Regions from separate parts of the Homo sapiens genome. Here regions 1, 3 and 4 are each linked to region 2. The links come from fine-mapping of genetic effects on plasma protein levels. A gene starts in region 2. Each other region holds a variant in brackets. All regions are shown on one strand. Distances are between the middles of the regions.

Region 1 (5,000 bases), 8.9 kb before region 2:
ACCCTGAGGAAGGGGGATGAGAAGGGGAACTAGAGTAAAAACCAACACACGGAAAATCTCTGTGTTCTGCTCTGACCAAGGCTGAATAAATCCCGTGACCACTTCTCATCCTCACCCTTGTCACCCAGTTGAGGAGCCGACTGCCCCCTGCCTGGCTGGGCCTGAAGATGGGAGGAACTGGCCCTGCCCTCTTGGACTTGGCTGGGAGATGTGTGGACCCCCAGCTCCAGGAGAGGGACTGATGAGACCAGGGTCCTGGGGGGTGCACGGGATGTGGGGATGGGACGATCACAAGGAGGAAGATAGAGCCAGGCTGGAGACACCAGGACTTGGGGCAGGGGCAGGCGTTTCTGTCTGTGGGAACACAGCAGAGGGAGGCAGGGCAGAGAGTGTCCAGCGCCCCCCGCCCTCAGCCAGCGCCTACCTGAACCTTTCAGGTAAGGAAGGAATTTCTTCCACAGTGAAGTCTTTCAAACAAACACAATCAGAAGCACAATTAGAACTATGATCCCTACGATGGTGCATGAGAGGTAATGAGAAGAGGCAGGAGTCCCCGGGCTGGTGATCATTGTCTCTTCAGCAGCTGGGGCAGGAGTCCCCGGGCTGGTGGTCATTGTCTCTTCAGCAGCTGGGGCAGGAGTCCCCGGGCTGGTGGTCATTGTCTCTTCAGCAGCTGGGGCAGGAGTCCCCGGGCTGGTGTTCATTGTCTCTTCAGCAGCTGGGGCAGGAGTCCCCGGGCTGGTGTTCATTGTCTCTTCAGCAGCTGGGGTTTCCACAGTGGCATTGGCACCAAATTCTTCAACACACTGGATATCATCCCAGGACGTACAATTACTGACTTGGACTTCCCCACTAGGGCACCTGGGTACACACAGAGAGGGAGGTGAGGACTCCTGAGGGAAAGCTAGCCAGGTGGGATAAAAGGGGAGCCACCCTCCCTCTCCAATGTCCCTGAGAAGGTGTCAGGGGAAGGACAGGCTCCTGTCTGGAGGGGGTCCCCCAAGTTCCCTCGTTGAGGCTGGGGAAGGGTCTGAGCATGCGCATTTCAGCCCCTCAGCCTCCCTGCTCTGGGGCCACAGGAGCCTTCTGTGCCGGGCACACACTGAGCTTCCCTGGGCTGCAGAGGAGGCCTGCGTTAGGAGGAGCCACACTCCAGGGGAAGGTCACGAGCCCTTGTGGCCACAAGCTGAGCCCCTTCCTCCAGTCAACCCACAGTACAAGTGATCTCTCACCCCCAACTGTCTGCTGGTTCCTCCCTATCACGGCAAACATTAGGGGGCCAGAGAAGAACAAATTACTCTTGGCCCTTAAAGCCCAAATAGGGAAAAGACAGGACTTATTGAGGGATTGGGGCCAGGGGTGAGGCCGGCTGGATTGGCTCAGGCCTTCATGGGAACTTGAAGGAGCTCCACCCACAGCCTTCTTATGACTTTTGTCGGCCGTGACCACTTTTGTCTTTATGGGTCCTGCCTGCATAAAAAATATTAAAAAGAACATTTTTTAAAACAGCTTGGTATAGCAACAAATACAACCCAGACTGGATTCAAGTGTTTTCTTCTCATTTCAAAAGGAAATCGCATTTCCTAGGTTTGCTGAAAAGGATCAAGGGATCCAGAAAGTTGCTTCTTGTGCCCAGTGAACAAGTTGGTCTGGCCAAGGGGACTCGTGCTGGGGAGGGTCTGGGAAGGGGCTGCTGCAGGGGGTAGGGGTGGGGACAGGCAGATGGACCAGGAGCGGCCACTGCAGACCCAAGAGACCCCACAGGCTCAGGGACACCCCATGGGTCTGGAGGCTCCATAGGGTCAGCGGAGAAATAGGGGTACCAGGTGACTCAGGTCTTCTCGGGTTCCTGAAAGCTGTCAGGAGCCCCTGACTGCTGTCTCACCTGCTACACTTCCGGCACATCTCTGGGGAGTTTTCATTCCGGAAGGTGCCTTCTTTACACTGACACACTGTGTCTCTGGTCATGGTGCAGGAACTTTTATGTTTTTGATCTGACAACAGAGCATAAGGTTTTGGGAATGTGTTTCCCTGATGTATCCCTCGATCTTCCTTACCACCCACCCCCTCCCACTCAGCTCAACCAAGTTCACCAAGGAGTTCTAAGGGCCAGTTTCTGCACCAGCACACTCAGGGCTCATACAGGACACCCACCCTTCAGCTGTCACCAGCACTCAGAGGAGTCATAAAAAGGAGCATAATTCATTATTTATTACATCAGATTAGGGGAAAAGCATTGTTTAGATGGCATGGTCAGTAGCAAGGGAGGTGCAAGGGCATCACCTGAGAGACTCTGCAAGGAGACGGAGGCCTTGGGGGACTTCCCCAAAGCCTGGGCCTGCTGGGGAGGAGGAAGGGGCCTGAGAACCTGAAGGCTGAGTGAGGCCGAGCACCTGCCAGGAGCACAGAGCCTGGGGGAGAGAGCCTGGCCCTGGAGCAGACCCGTGCCACTACTGAAACCTAGCCCTGTCCACTGGGCCAGGCCTTCTCTATGCTCTAATGATCCCCCCACCCTCTTGCAGCTGACAGTTTAGACGATTTCCCAGCCAGGTGGCATGCATTATAGAAAAGATTTCTTTCTATTTTTTTAATCAGTCAAATATATAATCATAGAACAGGGTGATGAAGACCAGGTTGGGCTGGAACTTGGTTCCCTGACTCATATCGGCTACAACTCCCACCTCATTGCCCCACGCTCCACCTCTGGACAAGAGGTCCACACATTCTGTACCTGATTTACAA[AC/C]TGTACATGGGAAGCAAGAAGGTTCATTGTTGGAAGCGTTGGTGTAATCCACACCCTCTGTGCACGGGTTACAGGCTCCAGTATGTTCTGATCTATGAGATCCTGGGAAGGAAGAGAAAAGCCAATGAATGAGTCACCACAGAATTCCCAGAGGCTGACAGTGGTGGGGAAACTTCTTTTTTGGCCCTCACTGGAATTGAGACAGAGAAATCCACTCTTCCAGGCTTGGTCTTGTCATCCATTCAGCATCTATTACATACCTTTGACTGGCACTGCTGACAGAAATATAATACAAAATTCAAATTCTATGCAAAATTCAAATTCTATGAGAGCCATATTAAAATAGTAAAAAGAATGAGGCCAAATTAATTTTAACAATATAGTTTTAACCTAAAATATCTGAAATACTACATTTCAACATGTAATCAATACACATCATTGAGATATTTTACTTTTTTTACGCCGTCACTCACAAAATAACATCCAACCTACTGTACATGTGATCTGCCCATGCTGGTCCACCTGACCTGTTTGCTGTCCACTCACCACAGTGGCCCCCTGTCTTCGCTCAGTCTCCCCAAGCCCCCGAAACCTGGGGTTCTCATTCCTTCAGGGCCTTCTCAAGAGCACTCTTCCTGGCTCTCTGCAAGACTGGCCCTGTCCAACTTTAAATATCAGCCCAAATCACCATCCCCGAGAGGCCCCACCAACCTTGTCTATCTCCTGTCACTTAACTATTCTTCATGGTTCCCATCAGGACATCCTGACTGTTATGTATATTCATGTGTCTTTTTTTTTTTTTTTGAGACAGAGTCTTGCTCTGTCACCTGGCTGGAGTGCAGTGGCACAATCTCGGCTCACTGCAACCTCCAACTCCCTGGTTCAAGCGATTTTTCTGCCTCAGCCTCCCGAGTAGCTGGGATTATAGGCGACGCACCACCACGCCCAGATTTGTATGGAACTACAAAAGACCTCAAATAGCCAAAGTGATCTTAAGCAAAACAAACAAAAGAACAAAGATGGAGGCATCGTACTACCTGATTTTAAAACGTGTTACAAAAGTATAGTAATCAAAACTGAATGGTAATGGCACAACAATGGTAAATAAACTGATGGAACAAAATAGTGAACCCAGGTATAAATCAATGCATTTACAGTTGATTGATTGTGAGAAAGATACCAAGAACACAAAATGGGGAAAGGACAGCTCTTCAATAAATGGTGTTGAGAAAAGTAGGTATTGACATGCAGAAGAATGAAATAAGACCTTTATCTCACATCATATGTAAAAATTAATTCAAAATGGACTAAAGATTAAAACATAAGATCTGAAATGGTAAAACTACCACAAGAATACATAGGGGAAAATTTTCATGATGTTGGTCTGGGCAATGGTTTCTTGACTATGACCCCAAAAGCACAGGCAACAAAAGGAAAAACAGACAAATGAGGTTACATTACACTAAAAAGGTTCTGCATGACAAAGGAAACAATGAACAGAGTGAAGAGACAACCTACAGAATGAGGGTCAATATTCAAAAGATCCAAGATTTTGGTTAAAATCCAAAATACACAGGAACTCAAACATCTCAATAGCACACAATCAAATAATCCAAGTAAAATGGATACATGGGCGTGGGACCTGAATAGACACTTCTCAAAAGGAGACATAGAAGTGGCCAAAAAGTATATGAAAAAAATGCTCAGCATCACTAACCATCAAGTGCCAAATATCACTTCACACCTGTAAGAATGGCTATTACCAAAAAGACAAAAGGTAACAAGTGTTGATGATGGGGAGAAAAAGGAATGCTGGTACACTGTTGGTGGGAATGGAAATTAGTACAGCCATTATGGAAAACAGTATGGAGGTTCCTCAAAAAACAAAAAATAGAACAACTATATGATCTAGCAATCCCACTATTGGGTATACATCCAAAGGAAATGACGTCAGTATATTGAAGAGATATCTTCCCTCCCATATGCATTGGAGCATTATTTACAATGGTCAAGACATGGAATCAACCTACGTGTCCATGGATGGATGAAAAGTTAAAGAAAATGTGACACATAGATACAATGGAATACTATTCAGCCTTTAAAAAGAAGGGAGTTCTGTCATTTGTGTCAGCATGGATGAAGCTGGAGGATACTATGCTAAGTGAAATAAGCCAGGCACAGAAAGGCAAACACCTCATGATCTCACATATGTGGAATCAGAAAAAGTTGGTCTCATAGAGGTGGAGAGCAGAATGGT
Region 2 (6,758 bases):
GCCACCACGCCTGGCTAATTTTTTGTATTTTTAGTAGAGACAGGGTTTCACCGTGTTAGCCAGGATGGTCTCGATTTTCTGACCTCGTGATCCACCCTCCTCGGCCTCCCAAAGTGCTGGAATTACAGATGTGAGCCACCGTGCCCGGCCCATAATTTTCACGTTTTTTCTTTTTTTGACAGCTTTAGTGAGACACAATTCACATAATTAATAATTATGATTATTCATATAATTCACCCATTTAAAGTCCACACTTCAGCAGTTTTTAATATACTCATAGCTATGCAATCATCACTATAATCAATTTTAGAATATTTTTATCACTCCAGAAAGGAACTACATACCCTTCAGCAGTAACTCCCCATCTCCCTAACCCCCAGTTTTTTAATACAAACATTGAAAGCTGTATATTTCACCCTGAGCACTGTTAGCTATTTCGCACCACTTTTGATGTGTTATATTGTCATTATTACTTACTTTGAAATATCTTACCTTCCCTTTTGATTTCCTGTCTGAACCACAGATTTTTAGAAGTGTGTTGTTCAATATCAAAATTTTAGAATTCTCTGTGGATATTGTTACTGATTTCCAGTTTAGTTTCATTAAGTTTAGAGATCATATTGTGTGTTTTATAGCCCAGAACCTGGTCTATCTTGGTGAAAGTATCATGAGCATAGAAAGGAATGAGTGTTCAGTGAATGTTCCACTCCTGCTCTTTAAATGTCAGTTAAATCAAGGTGGTTGATAGTGTGCAGATCGCTTGCCACTTTACTGGCATTTTCATCTAATCATGCTAGCAAGTGCAGAGAAACAGCTGAGTTAATCTCTTTTTAATTCTATTTTTGTGTCATGTGTTTTGAAGATGTATTACTAGGCATATACAATTTGTTGTTATTATACTCCTTGAAGAATTAACCCTTTTAACTACAAAGGTCCCTTTTCATCTCCCATAATATTCAATGTCCTAAAATTGTCACAGTAGGCAGCTAGTTAGGTATGAGCAGGACAGGAGAGGGGTCCCCGCTTCTGACACCAGCAGTGTTGGGCGACCATCAGGTAGTTGATAACTGTGTCTCTAAAGTAATAACTGGTTACAGCCGATGCCAGAAAAAAGCAGTTTCCTAATACATAGAAAACACTTGAAACTGATCAGCAGCTTCCCAATAAGATTTCAGGAGTGGGGAGAAGTAAGGCAAGATCCTGGAAGTAGGCCAACCTATAAAACCCCAACTCAGGCGGTCCGGCTGCGTACTGTTTCTCAAGTCACCTGCTTGGCCATCTTCCAAGTGTACTTTCCTTCTTTTCTTTCTGTTCCTTCCTTTCCTTCCTGTTCCTTCCTTTCCTTCCTGTTCTAAAGCTTTTTAATAAACTTTCACTCCTGCTCTGAAACTTGCCTCCATCTCTGCTTCTGCCTTATGCCCCTCAAACCAGTTCTTTCTTCTCAGGAGGCGAAGAGCTGAAGGTGCTGTGGACGCATACGGATTCGCCGCCTTCAACGTAGGGTAACTCGGATCTCATCCACCGCTAACAAAATCAACTTCATCTGATACTGAGATAGCCATGGCAGTTTTCTTGGCCTTACACTCTGCATGGTGTATCTTTTTCCATCTATTTACTTTCAACAGACAACATCTGTGTCTTCCTTTTAAGGCCCATCTCATATAGACAAGATATAGTTGAGTCTTGCTTTCTCAGCCCTTCCAAACATTTCTACCATTGAACTGTAGTGCTCAGTGGATTTACAGGGAGTGCAATAATTGATATAGTTGAAATAGACCTGTAAGTTTACCATTTAAGCTATGATTGTCTAGTCTAATTTTTTTACTCCTTTTCCCCCTGCACATTTTAATGTTAATTACCTTTTAGAATTCCATTTTAATTGGATAAACTGACTTTTTATGCATACCTATTTCCATGATCTATGTGCAAGTGCTATAGGGAATACAGTATACACTCAAGTGTTTACATTCTATTGAAGGTTTTTTAAAAATGGATTCATTGAGGTATAATGGGCATGAAACAAAGTGTACATTTTTGAAGCATGTAGTTTGGTAGATTGAGACGTGTGTATACATTGTGGAACTACCACCACGATAAGAAAATGACATGTCCACCACACCCCAGAATTTCTTCATTCTTCAATGTAATCCTCTCTTCCGCTTTGCTCCTATGTCCCCAGCAATAATTCTGCTTTTTGTCAGAATAGATTGGTCGAATTTTAATGAGAAATGGAATCAGATGGTAAGCATTCTGTGTGGATTCCTTCACACGACATAATTTTCTGTGTTTTTCTGTTTTTCTGTTTGTTTGGTTTTTTGTTGTTGTTGTTGTGACCGGGTTTTGCTATGTTGCCCTGGCTGGTCTTGAACTCCTGGGCTCAAGTGATCTGCCTGTCTTGGCAGGACTACAGGTGTGAGCCATCGCACCCTGCCCACCCTGGTCAATTGACTATTATGAATTAAAGGCTATTGAAAAACAACAGGTGCAAGAAGATCCTTTGACCTCTTTTGTGTTTCCTAAAAGCAGGAGATGAAAGTCCCCAGGGAAACATAGGACAATCTCCTTTTTTTTTTTTTCTGAAAGCTCTGCTTCCCAGGTTCTCACCATTCTCCTGCCTCAGCCTCTCCAGTAGCTGGGACTACAGGCACCCGCCACCACACTCCGCTAATTGTTTTGTATTTTCAGTAGAGACGGGGTTTCACTGTGTTAGCCAGGATGGTCTCGATCTCCTGACCTCGTGATCCACCTGCCTTGACCTCCCGAAGTGCTGGGATTACAGGCGTGAGCCACCGCACCCAGCTGACAATTTCCTTATTTTTAAGGATGAGAAGTCGAGGCCAAGAGGGTACTGTGCAGACCATGTTAGAATGGATCCACTCTCATCTTTTTAGCTCCTCACATAGTTACTTGCTTCTTCATGAGTTACTTGGTCTAATTCAGTAAATAAGTAACTGACTCTCACAGGTTCTTCCATGCCAGGTAAAACTTGAATTAAATAAATGTGTGTGCTTGTCTCCTGTGGACCTCTCTTAGGTGAATCAAATTCTCAGGCCCAGCTAAAAAAAAAAAAAAAAAAATCGGGTGGGGGGGCATCTAAAGGAGAGCTTCGCTCCCCTCCCTGACCCTCAATGGTGACTGTAATCAAACCACATCTTCCAGGCCAACAGTACCACATCCTATGGCCCTGCAACAGCATGGCCTCTCTCCAGCACAGCCTCTCTGGAGGAGGGGGAGGCAAGGGTAGTGAGATCTCAGGCCTCCTTCATGCTACCTCCTATTAGTTATATAATCCCTGGGTCACCTCTCCCACCACACTGCGGGCTCCAGGGAACAGGATTCACATGGGGTTCATTTGTCCTCCCAAACTCCGGCGGACTCCAGGCACAGGTGTTCTCAGAGTAAAGGGCTCACTGTTTACTTCCTGGATGAATCACTTTCCCCTCAAGCCTATGAAGTGCGCGCAGTTGTGGCCTCAGCTCAAGGCCGAAGGACAGGCTCCAAGAGCCCTGTGAACTCTGCTGAGGAACCATAAGAGCTCCCAGAGGCCAAGGGCAGGACAGAGATCAGAGAAGCAGCTGCTCAGAGAACTCTAGCCCTGAATCTCATTTTACCACTTGTAAAACAGGAAAAACAACCTACCTTCATCTCCCCGGGTTGTTAGGAAATCCACTACATGAAGATGTGCATTCTCTGGCTGGAAGCAGGATACCAGCTGCCCAACGGCAGAGGCTCGGGGCATGGCACTGTCCCCACTGTCCCCATCCCTGACCTAGAAGCTAGAGCCTCACTGCCCTGCCACTCCTGGATACACGACAGAGGACCAGAACTGGGACTGTGGCCTCTCAGTACAGCCTGGGTGAGTAGCCATCTGCAGCCACCTGGATGGAGACATTTCCTGCTCACTCTTCAAACTACAACCCGGGCCAGGCGCCTACCAGAAGGACAACTGGAAGCATGGCAGGTAAACCAGGCTGTGGCCCTGCAGTGCCATCGCTGTCCTCACTTGACGTCTGGCTCCTCTGTTCCTCCATGGCCCCTCCCCGTGGTGCTCCACCCTAGTCTTCAGAAGCTTCTGCCCCAAGCTCAGGGAGCAAGTACCAGGGTGCAGGTAGGAACAGGGGCAGCCTCTGCTGGATGGAGGACAGGTGCCTGGGGATCCAGTCCAGAGTGAGTGACACCAGCCCTGAGGATGTGATTTGTCCTCCCACACCTGGTAACACAGCCCTCTGAGGTTTACACAGGGCTGCTGAAGATTTTTACCTCCTCTTCACTTTACAGGCAGGAGCTGGGGCCACACCAGAGTCACAGAGCCAGAGGGGGAGCACGGCAGGGCCCAGCCATTCACAACCTTCAATCTCAGGAGTCCTTGACAGCCTGAGAGTCCGAGATTCTGAGCCGTTGGAACTTCTCAATTCCTACTTTGATAGAGAGAGGAATGGTGTGGAAGGACCTGGCGCACAGATTGGACCAGCCCAGCATTGACAGAGCCAGGACCTGGGGTCAGGAACTGAACTCAGCTCCAGGCTCATCTGAAGTCACCCTGACAGGCTGAGGATGGAGACCTTATCTCCATTCACAGGCATGGTGGGTGGCAGGGACTGGCCCCAACTGACCAGGGTTTTCCAAGTGCACAGCTCAGAATTCAGTCTTCCCTGCTGTCTCATCTGGATACCCTGGTCTACTCCCAGTACCAAAAAACTCCTATATCCTTGAAAATTCCTAATACCATGAGGAAACAAAAATACATAGCAATGTGATGTGTTATGTTTTACATCTTAGACTAGTAAAGAATGAAAGCTAAGTGTAGCAAAGGTGTAGGGACACAGGCACATTTGTGGACTAGGTGTGACTGTAAGCTGGGTTCAGTGGTTTTTTGGAGGAAAATTCGTGAACATTTAAAGAAACTTCTGAAGTCATTTATCCCACAGAAGGAGAAGTAGAATTCAACTTGTAAGGAGTTGCCCAATAAGCTGGTGTGCATGGATATGTGGACACACGATACATACAAGGGTATTTAGTACAATGCTGTTGGAATTAGCAAAGGCCGTCAGGATGGGATCTAACCAGCTGCCCCTAGGCGGCAACAGTGAATTAAAATGTGGCTTACCCATGCAGTAAAATACAATACCCTTGTTTAAAAGAAGATCAATCTGAATGTACTGCCATAAAACATCTAATGTGATTTGTGTTAGCTCCAAAATTTAACAAAGTGATTGTACATTTAAATGCATTTAATAAGGCAAGACTGATGGAGGGATTAAAGCCTCCTTTGGGACGCATAGAGTTCACATTCCCAAAACCGTGAAACTGATGTTGCTGGCCTTGTCTACACTGGTCATCCATGCATTCTCTCTTCAGGGCCACTGTCCTGACACAGCCATTCTTCTAGCTGCCTCAGGTAAGTCCACCCACTATAAACTATTTTAAAAGTCAGTTGTGTAATTTTTGAGAGGTGAAAATGTTACTGCTTTTCTGAATTTAGCATTAATTTGTAGAAAGACAACATGCAAACTCTCATGGTTTCTGTAACCTTGCTTTGGCCTTTTCTTTTTCTTTTTTCTTTTTTTTGTATTACATAAAGAATCTTAAAAAGGGCTGTTAGCAAAAACCTCAATCAATCTGAAAGAGACCTAGAAGTCTGCATATTTTATACATAATATGTCCTTGCACTCACACTACTACCAATCTCAGTTTCCAAAGCCAACTCACAACAACTTTACACCGTTTATGCTGAAGGAAGGGGCCAGCCCCGGTCCTGCCTATGGGATACAGAGGGGACACACGGGTGGTAGTGGAAGACATTAACCAAGGCAGCACCTTGGTTAACCGCTTCCTGCCACATTCCGGCTTCCTGCCACTTTCAGGACAGAGGAGGTGAAAGTTGCTAAAGACAGCGCTGAAAAGTTTTTTCACTGGCTGTTGGTTAAACCGATCTCCAAGGAACACGTTTAAGAATGTAAACATGGGGTTAATTTTATTAACTAATTAATTAATTAATGAGAGAGGCAACCGCTCTGTGTCTTCAGGAGGCTCACTCTATGGGTTCCACCTTGACTCCCTCCCTCTCTCGATTCTGGAACTTCCCTCCCTTCGCGGGCTCGGGGCAGCCAGGGGGACCGCCTCTCTGCTCCCTCGCGGCCGGGTCCCTCCTGCCCAGCCCGGGGACCCAGTTCTTCCCCTGACTCCGACGGCGAGTTCGTCCTGCCCGGACATGCCCGGCCGCAGGTGACCAGGGCCAGGCATCCCTGCCGTGTCCCCGTCTCCCTGCCCCCTCCCGGCGCCAGGTGCGCTCTTCCCCAGCCAGGGACCGCGGCCGGGACTCACTGGCAGCAGGACCGCGACGATGACGACGACGAACTTTAGGGTCTTGGGGATCCGGGCCATGGTATGGTTCCCGACGCCGTCCTGGGTCCTGGGTCGCACCCTGCCTCGGCCATCAGGCGGCCGGGGCGCTCTGTCCCCAGAGTTCCCTAACGGTAGGAAGCGCTCCTTCACCCCTTGCATCTCTGGTCAAACTCCCAAAAATCTATCAGAAATCGTTGGCTGAGTTCGTGCGCGTGGAGAGGTTCCCACAGCTGCACTGCCAGAATCGGAGCGCAGCGCCTCTGAATTTATACCCGCGGGGGAAAAGGCGTGGTCACTTGTCACTTGCAGCAGTCACTTCCAAGCACTCAGAAAAGGGGCATGGCCTCCCCTAGCACCTCCAGGAAGGCCTGGGTTTTGGTGGTGGGTGCATGGACGGACAGGAACTGGCTCTT
Region 3 (7,891 bases), 64 kb before region 2:
ATCTAGCTCAAGGTTTGTAAACACACCAATCAGCACCCTGTGTCTAGCTCAGGGTTTGTGAGTGCACCAATCGACACTCTGTATCTAGCTGCTCTGGTGGGGCCTTAGAGGATCTGTGTGTCAAAACTGTGTATCTAACTAATCTGATGGGGACGTGGAGAACCTTTGTATCTAGCTCAGGGATTGTAAATGCACCAATCAGCGCCCTGACAAAACAGGCCACTCGGGTCTACCAATCAGCAGGATGTGGGTGGGGCCAGATAAGAGAATAAAAGCAGGCTGCCCGAGCCAGCATTGGTAACCCCCTGGCGTCCCCTTCTACACTGTGGAAGCTTTGTTCTTTTGCTCTTTGCAATAAATCTTGCTACTGCTCACTCTTTGGGTCCATGCTGCTTTTATGAGCGGTAACACTCACCGTGAAAATCTGCAGTTTCACTCCTGAGCCCAGCGAGACCACGAGCCCACCAGGAGGAATGAACAACTCCAGACGCGCTGCCTTAAGAGCTGTAACACTCACCGCGAAGGTCTGCAGCTTCACTCCTGAGCCAGCGAGACCACAAACCCACCAGAAAGAAGAAACTCCTAATACATCTGAACATCAAAAGGGGCAGACTCCAGACGTGCCACCTTAAGAGATGTAACACTCACCGCGAGGGTCTGCGGCTTCATTCTTGAAGTCAGTGAGACCAAGAACCCACCAATTCCGGACACAAAATTACACTGATCAATATATTCATAGTTCGAGATACTTCTGGGAACCGATGTGTGGATTTTTCCCACCCTGACCACTTTTCCCACCTCAGATGAGTGCCCCATAATTCAATTCACTTCTTTTTTTTTTTTTTTTTTTTTTTTGAGACGGAGTCTCGCTCTGTCGCCCAGGCTGGAGTGCAGTGGCGGGATCTCGGCTCACTGCAAGCTCCGCCTCCCGGGTTCACGCCATTCTCCTGCCTCAGCCTCCCAATAGCCCGCCATCACGCCCGGCTAATTTTTTATGGTTTTTAGTAGGGACAGGGTTTCACCCTGTTAGCCAGGATGGTCTTGATCTCCTGACCTCGTGCTTCGCCTGCCTTGGCCTCCCAAAGTGCTGGGATTACAGGCATGAGCCACCACGCCCAGCCAATTCAATTCACTTCTGACACAAATCGGAGGTAGTGCCGACCCCACAGGGCAAGGACTCAGTGCCACAGACTCCCCCCACTTCAGGTGCAAATCACAAGCAGGTGGTCTGATATGGTTTGGCTGTGTGTCCTCACCCAAATCTCATCTCAAATTGTAATCCCCACATGTCAAGGGGGGAACGTGGTGGGAGATGTCTGGATCGTGGGGTTGGTTTCCTCATGCTGTTCTCATGATAGTTCTCGCAACTTCTGATGGTTTTATAAGGCTTTGGCAATTCCTCATTCACTCTCCCTTCTGCCGCCTTGTGAAGAAGGTGCCTGCTTCCCCATCGTCCTCCGCCATGACTGTAAGTTTCCTGAGGCCTCTCCAGCCATGTGGAACTGTGAGTCAATTAAACTACTTTCCTTTATAAGTTACTCAGGCTCGGACCATTCTTTATAGCAGTGTGAAAACAGACTAATACAGTGTCCCCAAGTCGTCCACGCCTTCTGTCTGACTTAGCTACTGATATATATTAGTGTTTGGTGACCCTAAATGTCTCAAAATAAATTCACTTGTGACAGAGGATCAGCCCACATTGAAATTGCTGACCCCTCAGAGTGAGAAGCGTATGTGTGGTGGACTGAGGTGATAAGAGGATTTGCTGTGGACGGGCACCCCCTAGACCAGACAAGCAAGTGAAGCCAGAAGGCAGCTGAGATCTTGGCTACAGACAAGCCTGCAGAGGGCCATAAAAACCGCAAAGACTCTGACCATAGCCAAGCAGCTGCTGCAGCTCTGCCCCCAAGAACTCTGAGGCCTCTTTCCCATGGGCTATGGAAGAAGAGCAGCGACCCCCACCCTGGTCCATGTTCTGAGGAAACCCGGACCTGCCAGTGTGTCAGTCAGCGTGCTGGTCTCCTGACATGCTCACTGTGGTCCCTTCCCCACCGTCTCATCACCGCCTGTGTGTGTTGACTATATTTGCATGAGTGTGTATGTGCAAAAGCCACACAATAAACTGTGAATTCATAAGAATTTCATTGGCCATTGAGTCATTGTGAAAACTCCTGGTTCCCCCACAACTAGGCTAATTAGAACCTGACATGGGAGCCACCAACTGACAATTCCCATGTTCTGCATCTCAGGTTTCATCATTCACTAGGCCAGCTCACAGAAGCCAGGAACACAGTTTACCTGCTATTGCCAATTTATTACAGAGGATATTTTTAATGATATCAATCAACAGCCAGATGAAGAAGGTGAGGGTTGTGAGGGTGCCCAGTGCAGGAGCTCTGTCCCTGTGGAATTAGAGGGTGCCACCCTCCCTACATACAGATGTGTACTTGTTCACAAACCCAGAGGCTCTCTGAACTCTGTCTTTTTGGGCTTTTTTTTTTTTTTTTTTTTTTTTTTTTTGAGACGGAGTCTCGCTCTGTTGTCCAGGCTGGAGTGCAGCAGTGCTATTTCGGCTCACTACAAGCTCCGCCTCCCAGGTTCACGCCATTCTCCTGCCTCAGCCTCCCAAGTAGCTGGGACTACAGGTGCCCGCCACCACGCCTGGCTAATTTTTTGTATTTTTAGTAGAGATGGGGTTTCACTGGGTTAGCCAGGATGGGCTCGATCTCCTGACCTCGTGATCCGCCCACCTCGGCCTCCCAAAGTGCTGGGATTACGGGCGTGAGCCACCACGCCCGGCCTCTTTTTGGGCTTTTTTGGGGGCTTCATTGCTCAAGCATGAGTGATCACTGGCCATTGGTGATCACCTCAACATTCAGCCCCTCTTCTCTCACCAGAAGCTGGGATGGGGGAGGGCATTTGCAGCTTCCACCAGGTAAGCAAAACCCAAGCAAAACTTCAGCAGGGGCTGAAGGTTCAACCCTCTGATCACAGGCTGGTTCCCCCCACCCCGAGGCTGTCCAAGAGCCTCCAGCCATCAGTCATTTCACTGGCATACAAAAAACACATTGATCACTTGAGAGATTCCAAGGATTTTCAGAGCTTTGTTGCAGGAAACAGGGCAGAGATCAAATATGGCACAAATAAAATAATACATATTTGATCTTTTGAGTTGCATATCCTTTTGCTATGAGGGAGTCCATGGCCAGAGACCAGACTGATCTCTGGCATGGACTCCCTCATAGCAAAATCAGTCTGATCTCTGGCCATGGATTCCCTCATAGCAAAACGATACACAATTCAAAAGATACTGGTAGGTTACTAGGTCCTCCTCAGTCACTTATAATTAGTCCACTCCAGCATCATATCATATACAAATGTCTCCCAGGGACCGGGTGTGGTGGCTCACACCTGTAATCCCAGCACTTCAGGAGGCCGAGGCTGGTGGATGATCTGAGTTCGGGAGTTCAAGACCAGCCTGACCAACATGGAGAAACCCCATCTCTACTAAAAATACAAAATTAGCTGGGTGTAGTGGCACATGCCTGTAATCCCAGCTACTTGGAAGGCCCAGGCAGGAGAATCAGTTGAACCCGGGAGGTGGAGGTTGCAGTGAGCCGAGATCGCGCCATTGCACTCCAGCCTGGGCAACAAGAGAGAAACTCAGCCTCAAAAAAAAAAAAAAAAAAAAGCATCCCAGGATGAGACCACTCAGGTTTTTAGGCCTCCATTCCACCTGTCAGGTTCCAAAAGCAGGACAGGTCTCAGCAAATATGGAGCTTCCCCCTCTCAGACATCTGGGATAATTGAGCTAAGAGACAATGTCTTCTCTTCCTCTGCGTCTCTTTCTTGGTATTACTGTAATACAAGATTTTCCCCATTACATAAACCATTTATTCATTATTTTACTCTCAGCTCCTCCTCCTTCTTCTTTTCACTTATATTCAAAGTTTTCCACTTTAAAAGGAATTGTGATGGGCCAGCTTGCTGACAGCAATACTCATGCAGCAAGCGTATCCCCTCAATCTACTTCCATTCATATAGGGCAGGGTTACATAGGTGCAGAACTAGTGGGCTATTTTACCAATAGGCAATGTATTAGTCCATGTTGCGTTGCTATAAAGGAATAGGTGAGGCTTGGTAATTTATAAAGAAAAGAGGTTTATTTGGCTCATAGTCCTGTAGGCTGTACAAGCACGGCACCTGCATCTGCTCAGCTTCTGGTGAGGGCCTTAGGGAGCTTCCAATCATGGAAGAAGGCAAAGCGGAGCCAGCACATCACATGGTGACAGGGATCAAGAGACAGAGGTGAGAGGTGCCAGACTCCTTTAAGCAACCAGCTCTCGAGTGAACTAATAGAGGAAGGACTCATTCACTACTGTGGGGAGGCAGACAGCCATTCATGAGGGTTCTTCCCCCATGACCCAAAACACCTT[C/T]ACCAGGCCCATCTCCAACATGAGATCCTGTTTCAGTATGAAATTTGGAGGGACACACATCCAAACCATATCAGGCAATGTAGCTGCATATACGGTTAGCTTCTATTTTGCCAGGTGGGGCAAAGCACAACCCACACCCATCAGGTCTGTAAGAAAATTGACAGAAAAGTCTAAACACATAGTCTCAGTTCCTGGCTTAGGAGTCGTCGCTGCTTCCAGCACTTGTAGTTGTAGCCCCGGTCCTGTGGCCACTGCACCAGGTGGTGGGTGGGGAGGAGGGGAGAGTTGAGGTAATGCGGGGAAGAAAGACAAAAATGACAGTCATTGGCCGGGCGCGGTGGCTCATGCCTGTAATCTCAGCACTTATGGGAGGCCAAGGTGGGTAGATCACCTGAGGTCAGGAGTTTGAGACCAGCCTGACGAACATAGTGAAACCCTGTCTCTGCTAAAAATACAAAAATTAGCTGGGCATGGTGGCGGGGGCCTGTAGTCCCAGGTACTCAGGAGGCATCACTTGAACCTGGGAGGCGGAGGTTGCAGTGAGCCGAGATCATGCCATTGCACTACAGCCTGGGTGACAGAGTGAGACTGTGTCTCAAAAAAACCCAACAACAACAACAAAATGACAGTCATTATACTAGCATCCTCCCCACCCCCTCATCCCCAGATCCACTGGAAAAATGGAGGAAAGTCTGGTGGGGACACTCCTTTAGCCCACTCGTGTGGAGTAGGGGCACACACCAGTGAAGGTGTGGAAGCCAGCCCTTCATGCCTGTGTCTCCCCCCATTTTAGACAATCAATGTTTCAGTTGACTGTTCCGCTTCCCTATCAAATTATTACTCTAAGGAGGATATCTCTCTGCCCATTGCTAAACATTATGCACTGAACAGCCTGTTTCTCGGTCCAAGGAAGTTCGGTTTAGTGGTCCAAACTAGAATAATACCTTCTTTCAGTTCTTTTATATTAATAGCACTCTGGGCATTTGCAGCCTCCACCAGGTAAGGAAAAGACAATCCACAGTCAGTTTCTGTTGCTGTCGAGACTCACCTGTACCCCCCAGGGCACTGCCCTCAGTCTCACTTTCCAAGTATGTTGAGGGCCTCCTCATCAGGGAATCTGCCTCATAGCTATAGGCAGTCTCTGTCTCTCCCGCTGCTAGACAGAACAGCTCTTATTGGTGTCATGTGCCTGAGAGAGAGCAAGAGGAATGTGTTTCGATTCAGCCCATCTCTGCGTCACTGTGGTTCCCCCATATCCACTTCTTTTGCTTCGTGGCCTCTGGTGACCACCTCAAGGGAGTACACGGGGGTATCTCTTGCTGATTACAGTCACTTTCTAAACCTGAGGGTGGGTTCTACTGACCAGCATGGGCGTGTCTTACTTTAATGCACTCCTCAAGCTCCCCTAGAGATTTCCATAGGGTCGGGCCTCATATGGACATCCCTACACTAGGTCAGTTTCCCCTTACTCTTGGAAACAATGGAAAATGTAGAGACGAATATCCAAATTTAATACCCTTTATTTGGAAAGTAAGAATTGCAATTCTTGGCATACACAAAGACCAAGTTGTCTTTGGTACGTCCAAAGAACAAAGAGAAGTTTGGAAGTTTTTTTTTTTTTTTGAGACGGAGTCTGGCTCCGTTGCCCAGGCTGGAGTGCAGTGGCGTGATCTCCGCTCACTGCAAGCTCCGCCCCCTGGGTTCATGCCATGCTCCTGCCTCAGCCTCCCGAGTAGCTGGGACTACAGGTGCCCGCCACCACGCCCGGCTAATTATTTTGTATTTTTAGTAGAGACCGGGTTTCACAGTGTTTGCCAGGATGGTCTCGATCTCCTGACCTCGTGATCCGCCTGCCTCGGCCTCCCAAAGTGCTGGGATTACAGGTGTGAGCCACCGCACACGGCCAGATGTTTTTTTTTAAATGAGAAATACTAAGTATTTTTTTTTGCAGAAAGTTCATTGGCGCTGTAAAATTTGAAGAAGTGGCATGCTCTGACTGGTGAGTGACTGCAGTGGGTCAGGCTGGTCTTAGAGCAGCAGCTGGTTGTGTCAATAGATATAAGACAGAACTATTAATAGTTTCACGTTACAGCTGCCAGACTTACAGAGAATTGCAGTTTGGGGGTAATACAGTGATTTTTCTTCCCCATGGCCTCTTGACTCTGTTTTAGTTGGGTGTGACAAGAATGACCCAATTTGTGCGATCAACTTTCACATTCTCCTTCCCAACTCTATGACCGGGACATTGACGACTGTCCATGAGCCAGAAAAAAACTCAAGTACAGGGGCTTTTGCTGCTGTTCAAATCTTCCATAAGGCTAGGAAAATAGCATGCAATCCAACCCACCTAGCCAATTTGCCTTTGCCTTCTTCCATCAGAGGGGTGGCCTTCCAAGTAGGATGTTGTCCATTCATCTAGGAATGACTGTCTACAAACTAAGTAGCTCTTGGTCAGTAAGTAAAGAGCTGTGTATAGGGCAATGTCCAAGTGACCACAGAATCCAGCAGCTCCTCACCCAGTTCCAGACTCAGTCTGAGGGGAACAGAGGCTCCCTGCTCATGAGTGTCTCCTCTTTGCCTTCCTCAGGCACCAGGATCCCATATCAACCATTTCCATTTTTTAGGCTGAGTGAGGTGGCTCACGCCTGTAATCCCAGCACTTTGGGAGGCTGAGGCGGGTGGATCACGAGGTCAAGAGATCGAGACCATCCGGGCCAACATGAAGATCCCTCGTCTCTACTGAAAATTCAAAAATTAGCCAGGCGTGGTGGCATGTGCCTGTAATCCCACCTACTCGGGAGGCTGAGGCAGGAGAATCGCTTGAACCCAGGAGGCAGAGGTTGCAGTGAGCCTGGATCGTGCTGCACTCCAACCTGGCAACAGAGTGAGACTCCATCTCAAAAAAAAAAAATCCATTTTGTAATAGAACTCTTCTGGGACTGGCCTCCCCGTTAGAGCTTTTCCAAGATTCCTGAAGACATCATCAGTTTTTCAGGTTTCAAGATTATTTTATGTCCTTCAGTGACAGGGGAGACTTCAGTTAGTGTTCCATCTCAAGCTAGTAAGTGCCTCTTAAGTGGAAACTTGACTCTAAAGGCCCAGTTCCTTGGAGGTGCTCACAGCCTTTTGCCATTAGCCCTAGTCAGTGCTCCACACAGGGCACAGAGAATGCGTTGTTACCTGCAGTCTGGTTTCTGGTCTATACTGTGTGGTCCACCCTCCAGGGCCAAGGGAGCTAAGGTGCTCTAAGGACTTTCCTGCAGGCCCTGGTGGCTCTGTGTTAATGCTGTCAGTCTTCCTGAAGTCCCTGACCTTTCACCTCCTGCCTGGATCTGCACCCCGCACACATTCCTGACCCCACACATTTCTCATTGCCTGGGTCCTGGCACACATTTCTGACCCTAGCTCAGTGTCTGGGGCCTGGCACACATTTCCGACCCTAGCTCAGTGCCTGG
Region 4 (7,891 bases), 42 kb before region 2:
ATGTACAAGATGAACACCCAATTAGGCATTAGACAGTCCACCGGGACAAATAAGTTTCCTGTGAACATCCATGATGAAATCTCCTGGATCCCCCCCAGGGCAAGGCTAGAATTTATAGCCACTCTACAGAGAGAAACCTCAAGACCAAATTAGAAAAAAATACAGCCACCACCTTGGTTAAATTTATTCCTAAGCATTTTTTTTGTAGCTATTATAAATGGGATTTTTCAGATAGTTTCTTGTCAGTGTATAAAAACACTACTGAATTTGTAAGTTAGGTTCATGTCTAACTTTATTTTACACTGATAACAATTTATCTTTGATCTCATAAAAAACTTGACACCTTTTCTTCTCCTGCCTTATTTTATGTTTTGTCATTATTTACGTCTTTTTATGTTGTGTATTCCTTAACAAATTGTATTAAGTATCATTTAAAAAAATACATTGGGCTTTTAACTTTTATAGTAATGATGTAAGTAATTTGTACACTATTATGATTGTATTAGAATATTCTGAACTTGACCATGTATTTAACCACCTAGTTTTATATTTTCGCATGGTTTTGTGTATCCAGTTAGTGTTCTGTTCTTTCAGATTGAATAACTCTCTTTAACATTTCTTGTAAGGCAATACATGCTAAAGATGAACTCCCCCCGTTTTTTTTTTTCTTTGTCTGATAAAGTCTTTACTGCTCTGCATTTCTAAAGGACAGGCTTGCCAGGTGTAGTATTCTTGGTTGGCAAGGAATTTTTCCTTTCTGTACTTTGTATGATTCCACTCTCTCCTGGCCTGTAGGTTTTCTGCTGAGAAGCCTTTGGTAGTTTTATAGGGGTTCCTTTGTACATTGCTTGTCTCTTGCTGGTTTCAAAATTCTCTTTGCCTTTGATGTTTGGGAATTTGTTTAAGATGTGTCTTGGTGAAGATCTCTTCATATTTATCTGTTAGGGGTTTTTTGGGCTTCATGAATGTGGATGTCCATTCCCATCCTGTTTTGGGACATTTTCTTTAATTATTTCTTTAATTACACTTTCTGTTCCTTTCACTTTCTCTGATGCTCCTTGGACCACCATAATGCATATATTGTTTTGCTTCACAGTAACCGTTGGTACTGTTGGCTTTCTTCCCTCTTTTTCATTCTTTATTTTTTTTTTCTTCCTGTGACTTGGTAATTTCAAATGATCTGTTTTCAAGCTCACTGATTCTTTCTTCCGATTAATCAACTCTGCTGTTGACATTCTCTGTGGAATTTTCTTAGTTCAGATATTGTGTTGTTGTTAATTTTAGAATTTCTGCTTTCTTCTTTATTATGTTGTCTGTGTATATTAAACTACTCATTTTGTTCATGTATTGTTTTCCTGACATGACTTAGTTGTCTATCCATATTCTCTAGTAGCTGACTGAGCTTCTGTAAGATGACTGTTTTCAAGTCTTTGTCAGGCTGTTGTAAATGTCTATTCCTTTCGGGTTGGTTACTTGTGCTTCATTTTGTTTCTTTGGTGCCGTCACTGTTCCCTGATTGCTCAGGAGCCTGTGGCAATATGTTGGAATGTGCACTTTGAAGAAGCAGGGACTTAATCCAGTATTTACAGACTGGCTTTGTCAGGGAACGCCCTTCACCAGTCAGCCTGTTCACAGATTCTGGGCAGGCCATGTGGTGTGGTTCAAGGGTGGTCAGAGCCAGTATCCAGAGAGGTGACCTGAGGCCTGGCTCCATGAGGGCTGAACTGGCACTGGAATAGGCCTTGTACTTGGGTCTGCAGATGTCAGCCAGGTGCTGTGATGGGTCTCATCCTTGGGTCCACAGGGAAGGGCCTGGAGCCTGAGTTCATGGGGACTGACCTGGCACTAGGACAGATCTGGAAGCTGAATCTATGGAGGTGGGTCAGGATCCTGGGTCTGTAGTGCTAGCCCGAAGGCACAAGCTAAGACTGATATCTTAGCTTATCATGCCTTTATCATGCCCTTATCTCTATGTGTTTCCAGACTTCTGTTTCCTGCACTTTCTGGTTCTTTATTCCATAGGGACATGTTGGATGATTTCTGTCAGTCAGGCACCGTGCTAATGGGATAATTATAAGAGGCCCTGCCCTCGTGGAACCTTTTCTCTGGGATAGTATTAAGACACACAGATCAAAATAACAGTCAGAAATTCCTGATAGGAACCATGAAGAAATTAAGTGATGAGTGAGACAGAGACGAGGTTGGTGGGGCCTCTCGGGGATGGTGATTTTGGCCAGTCTCCAAAGCTGGACAGGGATAGTTGTGCAGAGAGCCAGAAATGGTGCTCCTGAGCAGCCTCCCTAGGAATGACAGTCCCAGGGTGCAGGCGCTGGGGGATACCGAGCAGAGACGGGGCCACCATAGTGAGTGGACAGCAAACAGGTCAGGTGGACCAGCATGGGCAGATCACATGTAGATGAGGTTGGATTTTATTTTGTTATTTTATTTTATTGTTAAAAAAAAAAAAAAGTAGACTGGGCGTGGCATGGTGGCTCACGCCTGTAATCCCAGCACTTTGGGAAGCCGAGGAGGGTGGATCACCTGAGGTCAGGAGTTGGAGACCAGCCTGGCCAATATGATGATACACCGTGTCAACTAAGAATACAAAAAATTAGCTGGGCGTGGTGGTGGGTGCCTGTAATCCCAGCTACTCAGGAGGCTGAGGCAGGAGAATCGCTTGAACCTGGGAGGTGGAGGTTGCAGTGAGCCAAGGTCGCGCCATTGCCCTCCAGCCTGGGTGACAAGAGTGAAACTCTGTCTCCAAAAAAAATTTTAAAAAAGATAAAATATTTCTTTTCTTTTCTTTTCTTTTTTTTTTTTTTTTTTGAGACAGAGTCTTGCTCTGTCGCCCAGGCTGGAGTTCAGTGGCACAGTCTCAGCTCACTGCAAGCTCTGCCTCCCGGGTTCACGCCATTCTCCTGCCTCAGCCTCCCGAGTAGCTAGGATTACAGGTGCCTGCCACCACGCCCGGCTAATTTTTTGTATTTTTAGTAGAGATGGGGTTTCACTGTGTTAGCCAGGATGGTCTCGATCTCCTGACCTCGTGATTCGTCCGCCTTGGCCTCCCTAAGTACTGGGATTACAGGCGTGAGCCACCGTGCCTGGCCAAAAAAAGATAAAATATTTCAAATATTTATATTGATTACATATTGAAATGTAGTGTTTTGGATATTTTTAGGCTAAAAAATAGTTAAAATTAATTTGACCTCATTCTTTGTACTATTTTAATGTGGCTTTCATAGAATTTGAATTTTGCATGTGATTTGTATTATATTTCTGTCAGCAGTGCCAGTCAAAGGTATGTAATAGTGTAATAGATGCAGAATTGATGACAAGACCAAGCCAAGAAGAGCAGATTTCTCTGTCTGGATTCCACTGAGGGCCAAAAGAGAAATTTGCCAGCCATTGTCAGCCTCTGGGAATTCTGTGGTGACTCATTCATTAACTTTTCTCTCCCTTCCCAGGATCTCATAGATCAGAATATACTGGAGCCTGTAACCCGTGCACAGAGGGTGTGGATTACACCATTGCTTCCAACAATTTGCCTTCTTGCCTGCTATGTACAGTTTGTAAATCAGGTACAGAATGTGTGGACCCCTTGCCCAGAGGTGGAGTGCATAGTGATGAGGTGGGAGCTGTAGCCGATGTGAGTCGGGGAACCAAGTTCTAGCCCAACTTGGTAGTCTTCATCATGCCCTGTTCCATGATTATGACTAGTTGATTAAAAAAAAAAAATAGAAATCTTTTTTTTCTTTTCTTTTATTTATTTATTTTTTTGAAGACAGTTTCACTCTTGTTGCTGAGGCTTGAGGGCAATGGC[A/G]TGATCTTGGCTCACTGCAACCTCTGCCTCCCAGGTTTAGTGATTCTTCTACCTCAGCCTCCTAAGTAGCTGGGATCACAGGCATGCACCACCACACCCAGCTAATTTTTTTTTTTTTTTTTTTTTTTTGGGAGACGGAGTCTCGTTCTGTTGTCCAGGCTGGAGTGCAGTGGCGCGATCTCGGCTCACTGCAAGCTCCGCCTCCTGAGTTCACGCCATTCTCCTGCCTCAGCCTCCTGAGTAGCTATGACTACAGGTGCCCGCCACCACACCCGGCTAATTTTTTTTTGTATTTTTAGTAGAGACGGGGTTTCACCGTGTTAGCCAGGATGGTCTCGATCTCCTGACCTCGTGATCCACCCACCTCGGCCTCCCAAAGTACTGGGCTTACAGGCATGAGCCACCGTGCCCAGCCAGTTTTTTGTGTTTTTAGTAGAGACAGGGTTTCTCCATGTTGGCCAGGCTGGTCTCGAACTCCCGACCTCAGGTGATCCGCTTGCCTCAGCCTCCCAGAGTGCTGTGATTACAGGTGTGAGCCACTGCGCCTGGCCAAAATCTTTTCTGTAATGCATGCCACCAGGCTGGGAAATCTTCTAAACTATTGCCTGCAGCCGGGTGGGGGCATCATTACAGCATAGAGGAGGCCTGGCCCAGTGGACAGGGCTGGGTTCCAGCAGTGGCACAGGTCTGCTCCGTGGCCAGGCTCTCTCCTCCCGGGCTCTGTGCTCCTGAAAGGTGCTTGGCCTCACTTAGCCTTCAGGTTCTCAGGCCCCTTCCTCTTCCCCAGCAAGGCCGGGGCTTTTGGGAAGTCCCCCAAGGGCCCCTCTCCTTGCAGAGTCTCTCAGGTGATGCCCTTGCGCCTCCCTTGCTACTGACCATGCCATCTAAACAATGCTTTTCCCCTAACCTGATATAATAAATAATGAATCACGGTCCTTTTGTATTGGTCCTTACATACAGGGTGGGTGTCCTGTATGAGTCCCGAGTGTGCTGGTGCAGAAACCAGCCCTCAGAACTCCTTGGTGAACTGAGTTGAGCTGAGTGGGAGGGGATGGGGTGGTGAGGAAGGGTGGACAGACATGTCAGGGAAACACATTCTCAAAACCTTATGCTCTGTTGTCAGGTCAAACAAATAAAAGTTCCTGTACCACGACCAGAGACACCGTGTGTCAGTGTGAAAAAGGAAGCTTCCAGGATAAAAACTCCCCTGAGATGTGCCGGACGTGTAGAACAGGGTAAGACAGCAGCCAGGGGCTCCCAACAGCTTTCAGGAACCTGAAAAGACCTGATTCACCTGGTACCTCTATCTCTCCGCTGACCCCATGGATCCTCCAGGCCCGAGGCCTCCCTGAGCCTGTGGGGTTTCCTGAGCCTGCGTTGGCCCCTCCTGGTCCATCTGCCTGTCCCCACCCCTACCCCCTGCAGCAGCCCCTTCCCATACCCTCCCCAGCAGGAGTCCCTTTGTCCAGGCTGAATTGTTCACTGGGCACAGGAGGTGACTTTCTAGGTCCCTTGAACCTTTTCAGGCAACCTAGGAAATGTAATTTCCTTTTGAAATCAGAAGAAAACACTTGAATCCAGCCTGGCTTGTATTTTTCCTTACTCTAAGTTGGTTTAAAAAATGTAATTTTTAATATTTTTTATGTGGGCAGGGACCCATAAAGACAAAAGTGTCCGTAGCCCACAAAAGTCATAATAAGGCCATGGGTGGAGCTCCCTTAAGTTCCCATGAGGACCTGAGCCCACCCAGCCGGCCTCACCCCTGGCCCCCGATTTCTCACTAAGTCCTTCTTTATCCTATTTGGGTTTTAGGGGCAAAGAGTAACTTGCTCTTCTCTGGCCCTCCAGTGTTTGCTGTGGTTGGGAGGAACCAGCGGCAGACAGGGTGGGGCGAGGACTCACTTGTACTGTGTGTTAACTGGAGGAAGGGGCTCAGCTTGTGGCCACAGGGGCTTGTGATCTTCCCCTGGAGTGCGGCTCCTCCTAACGCAGGCCTCCCCTGCAGCCCAGGGAAGCTCAGTGTGTGCCCAGCACAGAAGGCTCCTGGATCTACAGCTCTGACCCCAGAGCAGGGAGGCCGAGGGGCTGAAGTGTGCATGCTCAGACCCTTCCCCAGCCTCAAGAAGGGAGCACAGGGGGACCCACTGCTGACACGAGGAGCCTGTCCTCCTGACGCCTTCTCAGGGACTTTGGGCAGGGAGGGTGGCTCCTCTTTCATCCCACCTGGCCAGCTTTCCATCAAGAGTCCCTGTCTCCCTCTCTGTGTGTACCCAGGTGTCCCAGAGGGATGGTCAAGGTCAGTAATTGTACGCCCCGGAGTGACATCAAGTGCAAAAATGAATCAGCTGCCAGTTCCACTGGGAAAACCCCAGCAGCGGAGGAGACAGTGACCACCATCCTGGGGATGCTTGCCTCTCCCTATCACTACCTTATCATCATAGTGGTTTTAGTCATCATTTTAGCTGTGGTTGTGGTTGGCTTTTCATGTCGGAAGAAATTCATTTCTTACCTCAAAGGCATCTGCTCAGGTAGGTGCTGGCTGAGGGTGGGAGCGCTGGGCACTGTCTGCCCTGCCCTCTCCCACTCCGTTCCCACAGACAGTAATCCCCATCCCTGCCCCTGGTCCAAGCGTCTCCAGCCTGGCTTGGTCTTCCTTCTTGTGATCGCCCCATCCCCACGTCCTGTGTATCCCCAAGGACCCTGGTCTCATCAGTCCCTCTCTCAGGGCTGGGGGACCCCTCATCTCCCGGAGCCAACTCCAGGAGGGCAGGGCCAGTTCCTCCTATCTTCAGGCCCAGCCAGGCAGGGGGCAGTCAGCTCCTCAACTGGGTGACAAGGGTCAGGATGAGAAGTGGTCGTGGGATTTATTCAGCCTTGGTCAGAGCAGAACACAGAGATTTTCCACGTGTTGGTTTTTACTCTAGTTCCCCTTCTCATCCCCCTTCCTCAGGGTGTCCCCTAATTGCAAGGCCCCATTCTGTCCCCAGCCCCAGGGCTCCTTGTCCAGTGTCCCAGCCCCCAGCCAGCCCTGCGCCCCACTGTCCTCTGGGAGGGAGGTGCTGCATGGGCCCCTCCCCGCCTGCTCAGGAGACTGCTTCTTTTCCAGGTGGTGGAGGAGGTCCCGAACGTGTGCACAGAGTGAGTTGGTTTCTCCAGAAACTGGGGGCTTCGTGGGTTCAGGAACTGCTTCCCATCCACTGCCGAGCCTGGGTGGGCACAATCCCTTGTCCTCATGGCTGCCCTGACTCTCTGACATGGCCTGGGGGATCTGGGCTGACTGTGGGGGACACACGGCCATTTTGAGCAGCACACAGACCAGCAGGCCGTGCTGCAGCCCTGTCCTTCCTGCAGCCTCGGTGACACCATCACTCCACAGCTGGCCCCATGGGGATGGGGTGACCACCTGACCCACCTCAGCATGGGGTCCTGGATGTGCTGAGCCTCAGCTGCCTGGGGTGACCTCATTGGAAGGGGTTGGGGATGGCAGGTCCAGCTGTGTACTGGGGACCCTGAAGCTGAGCCCGGGGTGTGGACTTGAGTGGGCTCTTTGTCTTCCCAAGGTCCTTTTCCGGCGGCGTTCATGTCCTTCACGAGTTCCTGGGGCGGAGGACAATGCCCGCAACGAGACCCTGAGTAACAGATACTTGCAGCCCACCCAGGTCTCTGAGCAGGAAATCCAAGGTCAGGAGCTGGCAGAGCTAACAGGTGTGACTGTAGAGTTGCCAGAGGAGCCACAGCGTCTGCTGGTGAGTTGAGGAGGGACTGTGCCCTGCCTGGCGTGCAGCCTGCACAGGACTTTGTAGACAGTGGGACATGGCAGTGCCTCCTCTTTCCTGGCCCAAGGGGACATGGAGCCTTTGGGAGACAGGGGACTGCAGGGGACGGAGCAGCTGCACTGAGGTGGTGACCGTGCCAGTCTGCAGGACATCTGCTTCTTACTCCCTGTCCTGTCCTTGCTGTGTCCCCAGAGCCTGGATCTCCACAGGCATAGAGTGGGTGTCACAGGGTTCACTGAGGACTGAATAAGGCTGCACAGTCTCCATCGTGTGCTCCTAACAGAAGTCAGGGAGC

Alleles and levels. Positions count from the first base shown, and alleles are read on the strand shown. Strength reflects both the effect of a copy and how common the allele is. Not every link is listed here.
For the plasma level of the protein whose gene starts at base 6,585 in region 2, allele T in region 3 goes with a lower level than allele C (strong association).

What was found. PIP is the chance, under the fine-mapping model, that this variant and not a neighbour inherited with it causes the effect. Protein levels are from antibody-based Olink assays in UK Biobank. Linkage for the fine-mapping came from a reference panel and not from the study's own genotypes, which makes the PIPs less certain.
Region 1: its variant is fine-mapped to the plasma level of the TNFRSF10C protein (UK Biobank, PIP above 0.99). The variant lies in the coding sequence of TNFRSF10C. If it changes the protein, the assay may bind it differently, which can mimic a change of level.
Region 3: its variant is fine-mapped to the plasma level of the TNFRSF10C protein (UK Biobank, PIP above 0.99).
Region 4: its variant is fine-mapped to the plasma level of the TNFRSF10C protein (UK Biobank, PIP above 0.99).

The regions. Positions count from the first base shown.
Region 1 is chr8:23,112,502-23,117,501 of GRCh38, reverse strand. It overlaps TNFRSF10C (TNF receptor superfamily member 10c), which reads right to left. Exons shown (of 5, transcript NM_003841.5): 3 at 2,732-2,845; 4 at 1,886-1,994; 5 at 57-861. The coding sequence ends at 471. Among named protein-coding and RNA genes, the nearest start is that of TNFRSF10C, 12 kb to the right of the region's middle. The variant AC/C (reference allele first, on the strand shown) is at 2,743.
Region 2 is chr8:23,102,748-23,109,505 of GRCh38, reverse strand. TNFRSF10C (TNF receptor superfamily member 10c) reads right to left here and starts at 6,585. Exons shown (of 5, transcript NM_003841.5): 1 at 6,325-6,585. The coding sequence starts at 6,384. LOC254896 (a long non-coding RNA gene) reads right to left here. Exons shown (of 4, transcript NR_046173.1): 4 at 5,948-6,758. RefSeq lists an enhancer at 5,711-6,520.
Region 3 is chr8:23,165,754-23,173,644 of GRCh38, reverse strand. No RefSeq gene overlaps it. Among named protein-coding and RNA genes, the nearest start is that of TNFRSF10D, 5.7 kb to the right of the region's middle. RefSeq lists an enhancer at 1-45 and a silencer at 4,992-5,172. The variant C/T (reference allele first, on the strand shown) is at 4,437.
Region 4 is chr8:23,144,125-23,152,015 of GRCh38, reverse strand. TNFRSF10D (TNF receptor superfamily member 10d) reads left to right here. Exons shown (of 9, transcript NM_003840.5): 3 at 3,465-3,578; 4 at 4,944-5,055; 5 at 6,095-6,348; 6 at 6,927-6,958; 7 at 7,381-7,566. Among named protein-coding and RNA genes, the nearest start is that of TNFRSF10D, 16 kb to the left of the region's middle. RefSeq lists an enhancer at 6,699-7,426. The variant A/G (reference allele first, on the strand shown) is at 3,821.